Regions from separate parts of the Homo sapiens genome. Here all the other regions are reported to be linked to region 1. Evidence: microRNA targets listed by miRTarBase, many of them from high-throughput screens and not tested one by one. Region 1 holds a microRNA gene; each other region holds the end of a gene's coding sequence.

The links. Region 1 holds the annotated microRNA hsa-miR-4283 (UGGGGCUCAGCGAGUUU, at 2,322-2,338, shown strand). A microRNA usually pairs through its seed, bases 2 to 8, with sites in the 3' UTR of a target mRNA and lowers its output. Matches are read on the target gene's strand: a 7mer-m8 pairs with bases 2 to 8, a 7mer-A1 pairs with bases 2 to 7 and ends in A, and an 8mer does both.
Region 2: miRTarBase lists TESPA1 as a target of hsa-miR-4283. The part of its 3' UTR that is shown has no 7-base or 8-base seed match.
Region 3: the mRNA of RNF185 is a reported target of hsa-miR-4283. Seed matches in the 3' UTR shown: 8mer at 1,932-1,939, 7mer-A1 at 2,253-2,259 and 7mer-m8 at 2,908-2,914.

What each region holds. Positions count from the first base shown.
Region 1 is chr7:63,618,779-63,622,122 of GRCh38, forward strand. It overlaps MIR4283-2 (microRNA 4283-2), which reads left to right and starts at 2,312; the gene lies at 2,312-2,391.
Region 2 is chr12:54,958,334-54,961,333 of GRCh38, forward strand. It overlaps TESPA1 (thymocyte expressed, positive selection associated 1), which reads right to left. Exons shown (of 11, transcript NM_001136030.3): 10 at 2,835-2,934. The coding sequence ends at 2,836. Among named protein-coding and RNA genes, the nearest start is that of TESPA1, 25 kb to the right of the region's middle. RefSeq lists an enhancer at 988-1,037.
Region 3 is chr22:31,203,859-31,207,202 of GRCh38, forward strand. It overlaps RNF185 (ring finger protein 185), which reads left to right. Exons shown (of 7, transcript NM_152267.4): 7 at 631-3,161. The coding sequence ends at 728. Among named protein-coding and RNA genes, the nearest start is that of LIMK2, 6.8 kb to the right of the region's middle.

The sequences.
Region 1 (3,344 bases):
GGGCTTGGTCTCAGGGTGGGGGCACAGAAAGGATGTACGGAGCCCAGGAGCAGAGGGGCAGGAGGGGAAAGGAGACAGGGAGCATCCTGGAATCACGAGGCTGGACAGACCCGCAGGTTTTACGGATCCAGACACTGAGGCCCAGAGAGGGTGAGCACCCTGCCCCAGGACACACAGCCTGCAGGTGCCTGGTCCCACTTCCTGGAGCTCTGCCGGGCACCACGGCTCCAGGGAGTGCTCCGGTGTTTTCCCAGCACTTGGCAACAGATGGCTCCAACTCTCACCCACGGACGCCAAACATTTTCCCTGGTTACCCTGCTAATTTGCTCACAGCCTCCTCTTGTAAATAGAGAGTACAAAGGCTCCTCCGAGTAGTGTGTATGCCGGGCAGACGCTGATGCCACGGGGAGAGGCCTTAGAAGGAGCATAGGAAAGTCCCAGGTAAGAACTAGGTAAGGCCCAGGTAAGGCCAGGATCCTTGGCTGACCTGGGGTCGTGGGAAGGACAGTGGCTCGGGGCCCAGGCAGACCTGGTTCAGGTCTTGGCTCTGTGCTCCCTTGGAGCCCGGCTGGGAATCTTGCACTGGCCTCAGGCCCTCTGGCATCAGTTTTCTCATCTGTGAAATGGGCACGTTAATGCCAAAGGCGTAAAACAGGAGCTATTATGTAGGTGCTCAGGGACTGGATGAATCTGTGGGAATCTAGCCATCCTTCCTGCCTTCATCTGGGGTCAACAGGGTGGCGGCTGCACCCTGGGCAGCATCCCTGCCCCTCCGTCCCCAACAGTAGTCCCTTCACCCAGCCCTTTTGACAGAATTCTTTCAACAACACTTATCAGGTCCTCCTCAGTACCCAGCCCTGTCACGAGGCCCAGAGAGGAGCTGATTCAAGCTTCCACACCGGGTGGCCTTGGGCAGCTGCCTTCACTTCTCTGGGCCTCATTCCCTTGAGCCTCCCACAGAGGTCACAGGGAGGATTCCATGAGATGATGTGTGCTCAGGGTGCTCAGAGTCACTCCTACCATGCAGCAGTCAGGGAAGGCTTCCTGGAGGAGGCAACACTAGTCCTTACACCTTACAGATGCATGGGCATGATTGGGTATGGCTGGTGCTTCCAGTGGGGGTTGGGTGGGGAGGCACCTCATAGGCTCAGGCAGGGCCTGGGGTGCCCAGCTGCATGGAGGGGTTTGGAGCCGGCTGGAAAGGGGACTCCAGGCTGACCTCGGGTCCCTTGGGCCTCCCTTCCCCATAACCTCCTTCACAGCAGCCCAGCTGATAATGAAGTGCTCCTTCTAGCCGACAGCTCCTGGAGCTGGGCCAGGAGGCTCCTCCTGTCCTGGGCCTGCCTCCAGCTGCTGCCCACAGTCCCAGAAAGACTTTACCGCACCTCTCCGGCCTGGGGTGTCCTGGGGGATGAAGCTCCAGGAGGCCACCTATGGCTTGGGGCCCCAGTCCCAGAAGCCTGGCCTGGGGCGCACCTCTCTGGTCTTCAGGAAGAGGGGCCTGGAATGAGAGTGGGGGCGTCCAGTGGGGCAGCTTAACCGGGCAGGGCTGATGGGACCGCGGGCTGGGGAGGGACCGGGGCCTGGGGAGGAACCAGAATCTGCCTGGCCTCACTGTGTGACTTGGGTGAGCTCCTCTACCTCTCTGAGCCTGGGCTTCCCATCTGTCTGGGATGTCTCCCCTCCTGTAGTCACTGTGAGGTTCTGAGCAGAGGACACTCTTAGCCCAGAGCCTGGCGCATAGCTGGTGCGGTGAGCGCCAGCCCCTCCCTGTTCCTGCAGAGCCCTGCCGTTCAGCGCACACAGGCTGCCTTGCCCTCTCCAGAGAGGATCATGGGGCTTAATTTGTTGATTGAATTTGCTTGTTTGGCCCAGATGGTTGGGTCTCGTTTTCTTTTTTTCTTTCTTTTTTTTGGAGACGGAGTCTTGCTCCATCACCTGGGCTGAAGTGCAGTGGCATGATCTCGGCTCACTGCAACCTCCGCCTCCTGTGTACAAGCGATTCTCCTGCCTCAGCCTCCCAAGTACCTGGGATTACAGGCACGCACCACCATGCCTGGCTAATTTTTGTATTTTTGGTAGGGATGGGGTTTCGCCACGTTGGCCAGGCTGGTCTCAAACTCCTGACCTCAGGTGATCCACCCACCTCGGCCTCCCAAAGTCCTGAGATTACAAGCATGAGCCACCACGCCTGGCCGTGGGTCTCGTTTTCTCTTGCAAGTTTGACTCCATGGTGCCTGAATGCAGGGGAAGCAGGTGGTGTCCTGTCCCGGCAAAGGCAGACATGGGGCTGACACAGAACGGCCCAGGGACTCTGATCCTGGGGCTCAGCGAGTTTGCAAGGGGTGTTTCTGTCCATGGTCAGGCTTGCCAGCCTTGGTCCTTGGGCCCACCATAAGGTGGCCCAGTCCTGACCCTGTCTTGGAATTGCTGAGAGCAGAAATGCAGTAATGTGTCACCATGATGATGTCTGGTGTCATGCTATCAGACCCACCATTCCTCAGTGGGACCCCTGCCTCACCACTCACCAGCTGGCTCCCTGGTCTGCAAAAGGTGGTTCACTGGTACCCAGGTCCCTGTGCGAATGAGAGGAGCTGACTTCTATGAAAGCCACTCCCTGCACCCAGGGAGACTAAGGAGGTGGGAGGCTCTCGTCCCCTGAAAGCCCAGCCAGCCAGCCCCCTCTCCTTCTGCCTCCCCAGGGAACCGTGTCCTGAGCAGGGCCCTTCACCCCATCTCTGTCTGATCTCCACTGCGTGTACGGATTGACGGGAAAGATTCTAATGGGCTTTAAGTTAACAAGCTGGGAACGAATTAAGTTTGATCTCTGCCAGAAGCAGATGGCATAGCTTCCTGGCCTGGAACAGCCCGGCTGGAGCAGTGGCAGGTGGCAAGGGCTGGGTGGGGGGTTGCCCCACTGGGCTCTCTATTTTTCTCTCCTTCCCCCAACTTTTTTTTTTTTTTTTGAGACGGAGTCTTGCTCTGCCACTCAGGCTGGAGTAAAGAGGTATGATCTCGGCTCACAGCAACCTCTGCCTCCCGGGTTCAAGTGACTCTCCTGCCTCATGCTCCCAAGTAGCTGGGATTACAGGCACCCGCCACCACACCCTGCTGATTTTTGTATTTTTAGTAGAGGCGGGGTTTCACCATATTATGGGCTAGACTGGTCTGGAACTCCCGACCTCAGGTGATCCACCTGCCTTGGCCTCCCAAAGCGCTGGGATTACAGGCTGAGCCACTGTGCCCGGCCTCTCCTCCCCCCACACATTTTATTATGTTTTATTTTAAAGAGATGGGGTCTTGCTTTGTCTCCCAGGCTGGTGTGCAGTGGTGGGATCACAGCT
Region 2 (3,000 bases), not on the chromosome of region 1:
TATACTACACATTTTCTGAGGAGAAGTTGCATGTAATTCTTATCTTTGTTTTTTTATAGGTAAGGTGTTTTTTCCTTCTGGCTTCTTTTATGATTTTTCCCTTTACTTGTGATTTTCTGTAGTTTAAAAATTATAAGCTTAGGTGTAGATTTTTGCGTTTTTTTGTGCGTGTGTTTATTCTTTTCGGTGTTCTCTGAGCTCTCTGGATCTGTGGTTTGGTATCTGACATTCATTTGGGGGAATTCTCAATTATTATTGTTTCAGATATTTCTTTTATTTCTTTCTCTCTTTCTTCTCCTTCTGGAATTTCCATTATGCATATGTTACACCTTTTGTAACTGTCCCACATTTCATGGATATTCTCTTATATTTTTTTCAGTCTTCTCTTAGCTTTTCAGTTTTGGTGGTTTTTATAGCTATAGTCTCAAGCTCAGAGATTCTTTCCTCAGCCATGTCCAGTCCACCAATAAGCCCATCAAAGGCATTCCTCATTTCTGTGACACCATTTTTTATCTCTAGCATTTTTTTTACTCTAAGGATTTCCATCTCTCTGTTCATTTGTTCTTGCGCACAGACTACTTTATCCATTAGAGCCCTTATCATTTTAGTTGTTTTAAATTTCCAGTTTGATAATCCTAACATCCCTGTCATATCTGAGACTGGTTTTAACGTTTTCTCTGTTTCTTCAACCTGTTTTTGCCTTTTACTATGTCTTTTTTTTACAACTGGACGCGATGTACTGAGTAAAAGAAATTGATGTAAATAGGCTTTTAGTAATGTGGTGGTAAGGTTTAGGGAGAAGGGAAGCGTTCCATGGTCTTATGGTTAGGTCTCAGTCTTCCAGTGAGACTGTGCCTCTGGATTGTGACTCTCACCTGTGCTTCTCATCCTCTCTGTCCCCTTTAATGGGACGGGATGGCTAGAGTAGGCAGGAGTTGGGTGTTTCCCTTCCTTCAGGTCGGTTAGTCTCTGATAAAACCTCATCCGGTTAGGTTTTTGGTATCTAGTTTCTCCCGAGGGAAGACTTTGTTAAGAGGAATAGAATGCTCTGCTGCATTTCAAAATGGTTCCTTTCTCCCGCCCCCTGCGGGAAACACTAGGGGATTTTTCTCCAGTATTTCCTGTGAGAACATGGTTGAGCTCCTAGAAGTAAGACTCCCAGAAACAAGGGGCCTCCCAATGACTGGGTCTCCCTAGAGTTTTTATTTCTCAGACTGGTCCATGCTGAGCATCCAGTAATTCCTCGGTTATTGTCCGGGTTCTCTACCGTGGTTCTGATTCCTGGGGGAGTTTATGCTTTGGGGTTTTTGCTCTAACAAGTCATAAATCTTTGCATTTGCCTATTTCTCTAATTTGAGGAGAAGTGGTTTGCCCTGTGACCCACTTCTCTGATGGGTCTAGAACGGTTACTAATTTTTCAGTCTGTTCAGGTTTTTACTTGTTGTTTGGGTGGAGTGGCCGCTTCTAGCTCCTAACATGCCAGACCAGCAACTGAAACCATCTGAAACTTCTTGAAGTGCATATGACATATTGATGCCTTCTGCTATTTACCTCTTTTGTGACTAAATACATACATATGATTCATATACCCTGAGATGTAGGTAGTAGGTAAGAGAGAAACAAGAGTGATTAGATTCCTAAAACCACAGAGAATTAGAATTAAAACAGTTAGAATTGTAAATATCTTTGTGTGTCTGAGCAAGTACCACTGAAATTTTGGAGTATTAACTAAGAAAACAATTAGACTAGAAAATGTAGAAAATGGTACCAAGATATCCAAAATAAAGGAATCTCTAAGCAAGATTTATTTACTTAATTCAATAAAGATTTTAATTTATACTATCTGGGGAAAATACCATTATCCCTTATGCCATTTTCTTTGTGGTTGTAGCAGATAGGTGGTTAAAACTACAGAAAGATTAATTTTCATTAGTTTAAATAATAAATTACTGGCCAAACTATTTAAAGGTATAAGAGATATCTCTGAAAAAATTAATACTGAAAAACTCATATCTGGAGGAAAGAAATTTTAGCTGCAATAAATAACAATGTGAAATTCATTTCCTGCTTTGAGGAGGGGAGGGAGAGCTACCTTCATCAGACCACAGTTGCAGAAGGGAGCTCAGACCCTAAATGAGCATAGCTGTGAGGTACATTGAGGAGTCTGCTCTGAGTTCAATGATGTGGGCTGATTAGAACATAGCTGAAAGCAGGTGTTGGGATATTGATTTCCATGGCTGGTCCTCACCTGTTACAAAACTTCTACTACAATGAGTTTCAAACTTCAATATGCAATCAATTATCTAACCTAAAGATCTTGGTAAAACTGTGATTCATTAGGTCTGGGGTGGGGGCTGACAGTCCACATTTCTAACAAAATCCCAGGGGATGCTGATGCTCCTTGTATCTGTACACTACAGTTTGAATATTAAAGTTCTACACAATGTCTCCTGGAACAGCAGTTCTCAGACTGTGATTACCAGACCAGCAGCAATAGCATCACCTGAGAACTTCTTAGAAATGCAAATTCTTTGGTTCTATCCAGGCCAATTCAATCAGACACTCTGGGAGCTGGGATCTGGTCATTTGTATTTTAACAAGCCCTCCAGGTGATTGTGATGCCTGCCAAAGCCTGGGCATCATTGATCTAGAGAGGTATTTTCCAGCCATAATAGAATTACCTGGAAGCTTAAAATAATTAGTCATTGGTTTCCAATTAAATCAGAATTACAGAATGTGGGACCCTTTATTATGGGTTTAAAAAAAAAAAACCTTCCTCATTTGATTACAATGTGCAGCCAGGTTTGAGAACTGCCTGAGAGAGGCCCACTTACTTCACGAGTCTTTGCCAGCAAAAGTCTGGTGGTGGTGGGGGTGCCTGGGTCTGCTGGGCCAGCGACTCTGACTCTGCTCCTCCTCACTGTTGCTTTGCACCTGTAACCAAGATCCCACAGAACTCAGCCAGAGCCAAGGGGGAAAGGGGGTAAGGAAAGGTGCAGG
Region 3 (3,344 bases), not on the chromosome of region 1:
AACCCTGTTCCTACTAAAAATACAAAAAAAAAATTAGCCGGGTGTGGTGGTGCGTGCCTGTAATCCCAGCTACTCAGGAGGCTGAGGCAGCAGAATCGCTTGAACCTAGGAGGTGGAGGTTGCAGTGAGCCGAGATCGTGCCATTGCACTCCAGCCTGGGCAACAAGAGCAAAACTCCACCTCAAAAAGAAAAAAAAAAAAAAAGGCCAGGCATGGTGGCTCATGCCTGTAATCCCAGCACTTTTGGAGGCTGAGGCAGGCGGATCACAAGGTCAGGAGTTCGAGACCAGCCTGACCAACATGGTGAAACCCCGTCTCTACTAAAAATACAAAAATTAGCCAGGCTTGGTGGCGCACACCTGTAATCCCAGCTACTTAGGAGGCTGAGGCAGGAGAATCGCTTGAACCTGGGAAGCGGAGGTTGCAGTGAGCTGAGATCGTGCCACTGCACTCTAGCCTGGGCAACAGAGCGAGACTACATTTCAAAAAAAAAAAAAAGAAATCTTTTTGTGTGTAGGATTCTGATGTTGTAAAGAGATAAAGATTGATGCTGTCAACTTCTGGCCTGAGTGGGCAGTGTGCATAGCTGCAGTGTTCTAATAGCCTGTTTTCTCCTTTCTGTCTCTCCAGCTGTCCCTGGGACACCCCAGTATGTGGACGAGCAGTTCCTGTCACGCCTCTTCCTATTTGTGGCCCTGGTGATCATGTTCTGGCTCCTGATTGCCTAATGCTGGGCTCCTGCCTACATCCGTGGCAGGGCTCTGGACTGGTGACGTGCCACCCCAACTCCTGGTGTTTGGCTTCCTGGCTAATCTTGACTCCTGGAATCAGTGGGATCAGTAACACATCAAGGAGTCTTGTTTCTTCATCAGAGCTTTGGAACTCGAGACCAGTTGGCGATGACCCCTGAATATCGCCACCGCTGTAAACACTCTATAACTTCAGGCCTTGGCATTGAGTCATCTCTCATGGGTGACACCATGAAATCTTGTTTCAGCCAGTTCTGCAGGTCCTGACTCTGCAGAGGGAAGAGGCAGAAAGAGAGAAACTGTCAGAGTATAATTTCACCTGAGTTTAATATTACAGAAACAAAGGGATGCACCAAATGGTATTTCTGGAAATTTTCATGTCTTTAAATACCCCTTGGTAAGTTGCTTCTGAAGCCAGTGGGGGCTCCTCAGATAGAGAGGTTCCCCTTTCAAATCCCAGTGCCGCTCTGTTCTCTTTCCTTCCCCTCCCACTCCCCCTCTTCTTCCTCTGTAGAGATGCAAGAAATTGCTGTCCCATAAAAATCATAATTGCAGTAGCTAAAGCTGGGGTCACTTCGTGAATTCACCAGAGACTCAAAGATCTTTTATTGGCTCTGGGCTGTGCTCAGTGTCTTTGGCCTCAGAGAACAACTTGAATGACTTCCTGGTTTCCTGGCATAAATTATTCCTGGTGAGACATGTGGCTTAACTCACAGGTTTCCCATCAGCTTTCTCCCTAAAACTATGTTCATCTGCCTCTCTCTGCCAGAGAACATACAGCCGAGAATACTGCCGAAGCTGAGACTGACTACTGTGCATTAGGAAAGACCTGGAGTCAGGACTTTGGTGGGATTTGGAGCTCCGAGGCAGTAATAACTGAACAAGCAGCCCTGTCCCCTAGGCTGCAGAAGCTTGAATGCATCCTCTCCCAGAACCTGCCACAGGAAACTGGGGGCTTTGTCAGGTCAGCCCAACTGCATGCAAAAGACCACCATCCTCAGAAGCCAAGTTGTCTTTTATGAAGAGGCAAGGAAAGGGGAAACCCACATGTGACCCTGATTTTGGTATGGCTTGATAGAGTTCCCTGAAAACTCCTTGTATGTGTGCTAAAACCAGGGAAGCATGTGACTGCCAAGCAGGCAACCCCTGATGATTTGTAAAGCCAGGTGGCAGGGCCTTGGGGAGCCCCAGCACAATGATATTGTGTGGTCTTCCCTCCTGTGGAATCGAGGGGAAATTATTCTTCCCAATACCTTGATTTGATTTTCAGTTTCATAAGCTTCTTCCTCTGAATCTTATTGAGGGACTATGGTACCAAGCAGGTAGGACTGTTCACCTGGTGGAACAGTTCTTGCTCTGCCTTCTAGGCTTCATCCCAGAAATCCAGCCTCTTTCTGGAGACCCCAAAGCTGGAGGGAGATGGGCTTTCCTCTGGGCCTCTCTCCTACTTTGCCATCCACACTGCTCCTGGCTAACCCCAGCAATAACCAACAAATGGTAGGAAGCCCCATCTATTGCTTTTTCTCAATTATGACTGCATAGTTTATGGAAACAAAGATCTTGAGGAAGATGAGGGAAGCCCTCCCCTCTTCACAGTCCCCATCTCTTCTCCTTTGTACCTGTCAACACCAGAGTTCAGTGTTTAAACAGACAAAATATAAAGTATTGAGTAGGTGGTTCATATGCCGAATCCACTTGGTAGGAAGAAACCACCAGCTTTATAGTGTGCCTGATAGATTTTAAACATTCCTGGGCACCCACTCAAGAGTGCTCTTTTTATCACCTTCTGGAAATCCGCAAAGTTGCAGGGGCCTCTGGAGTGTCTCTTCTCTAGAGAGAATTGGTGGGACCCCCCTCAGTGCAGTGGCCCCAACTAGTGGAGGGAGAGAGGACTTAAGTCAGATGGACTCAACAGAAATGGGTTTCCAGAAGAATAATGAAAAGTTGTGGGTAGGAAAATGAATCATTTGGACTCTTCAATGAAATGGAGTGAGCCCAGGAGAGCTCAGCCAACAGAGGCACTCTGGGAACCTGTTAGTAAAGCCAGGCTGGCCAAATGCCATTTGATTTTGAACCTCGTAGGTCCCCACTCACCCTCTGCCAGGAGCTAAGTAAGGCAGGAGAGCTGACTTGGGACTCCTGGCTCGGCCCCAACAGGGAGCCCCCTTCCCACCATCCCTCGGCAAGCTCACCACCTCATCCTTCTGCCAAGGCAGCTTTCCTTTCTTTTGTGTGTTTTCTGTGTTCTTAGCCTCCACCCTCCTCCTGCCACCCTTGTGGACTAGGACCAGGTCCTGACCCCAGTCAGAAAATGATGATATGTACAGTGGCACACCTTAACCAGTCACTAATTTTCACTGTTGTGAAAGTGATTTGATTTAGAATTAAACAAATGGTTTTACATTACTATGAGCTTGGACTTCTTGTCTGTGTTGTGGAGGGCGAGTGGGTGGGGAGTAGTCACACTGGTATGCCCTCCTGGAGGCTCCTGTGCATCCTCCGTAATGTCACACTGAGAACGAAAGTCTTCAAAGAAGCTGGGCATGACTTATGCCTGTAGTCCTAGTTACTCTGGAGGCTGAGGCAAGAGGATTG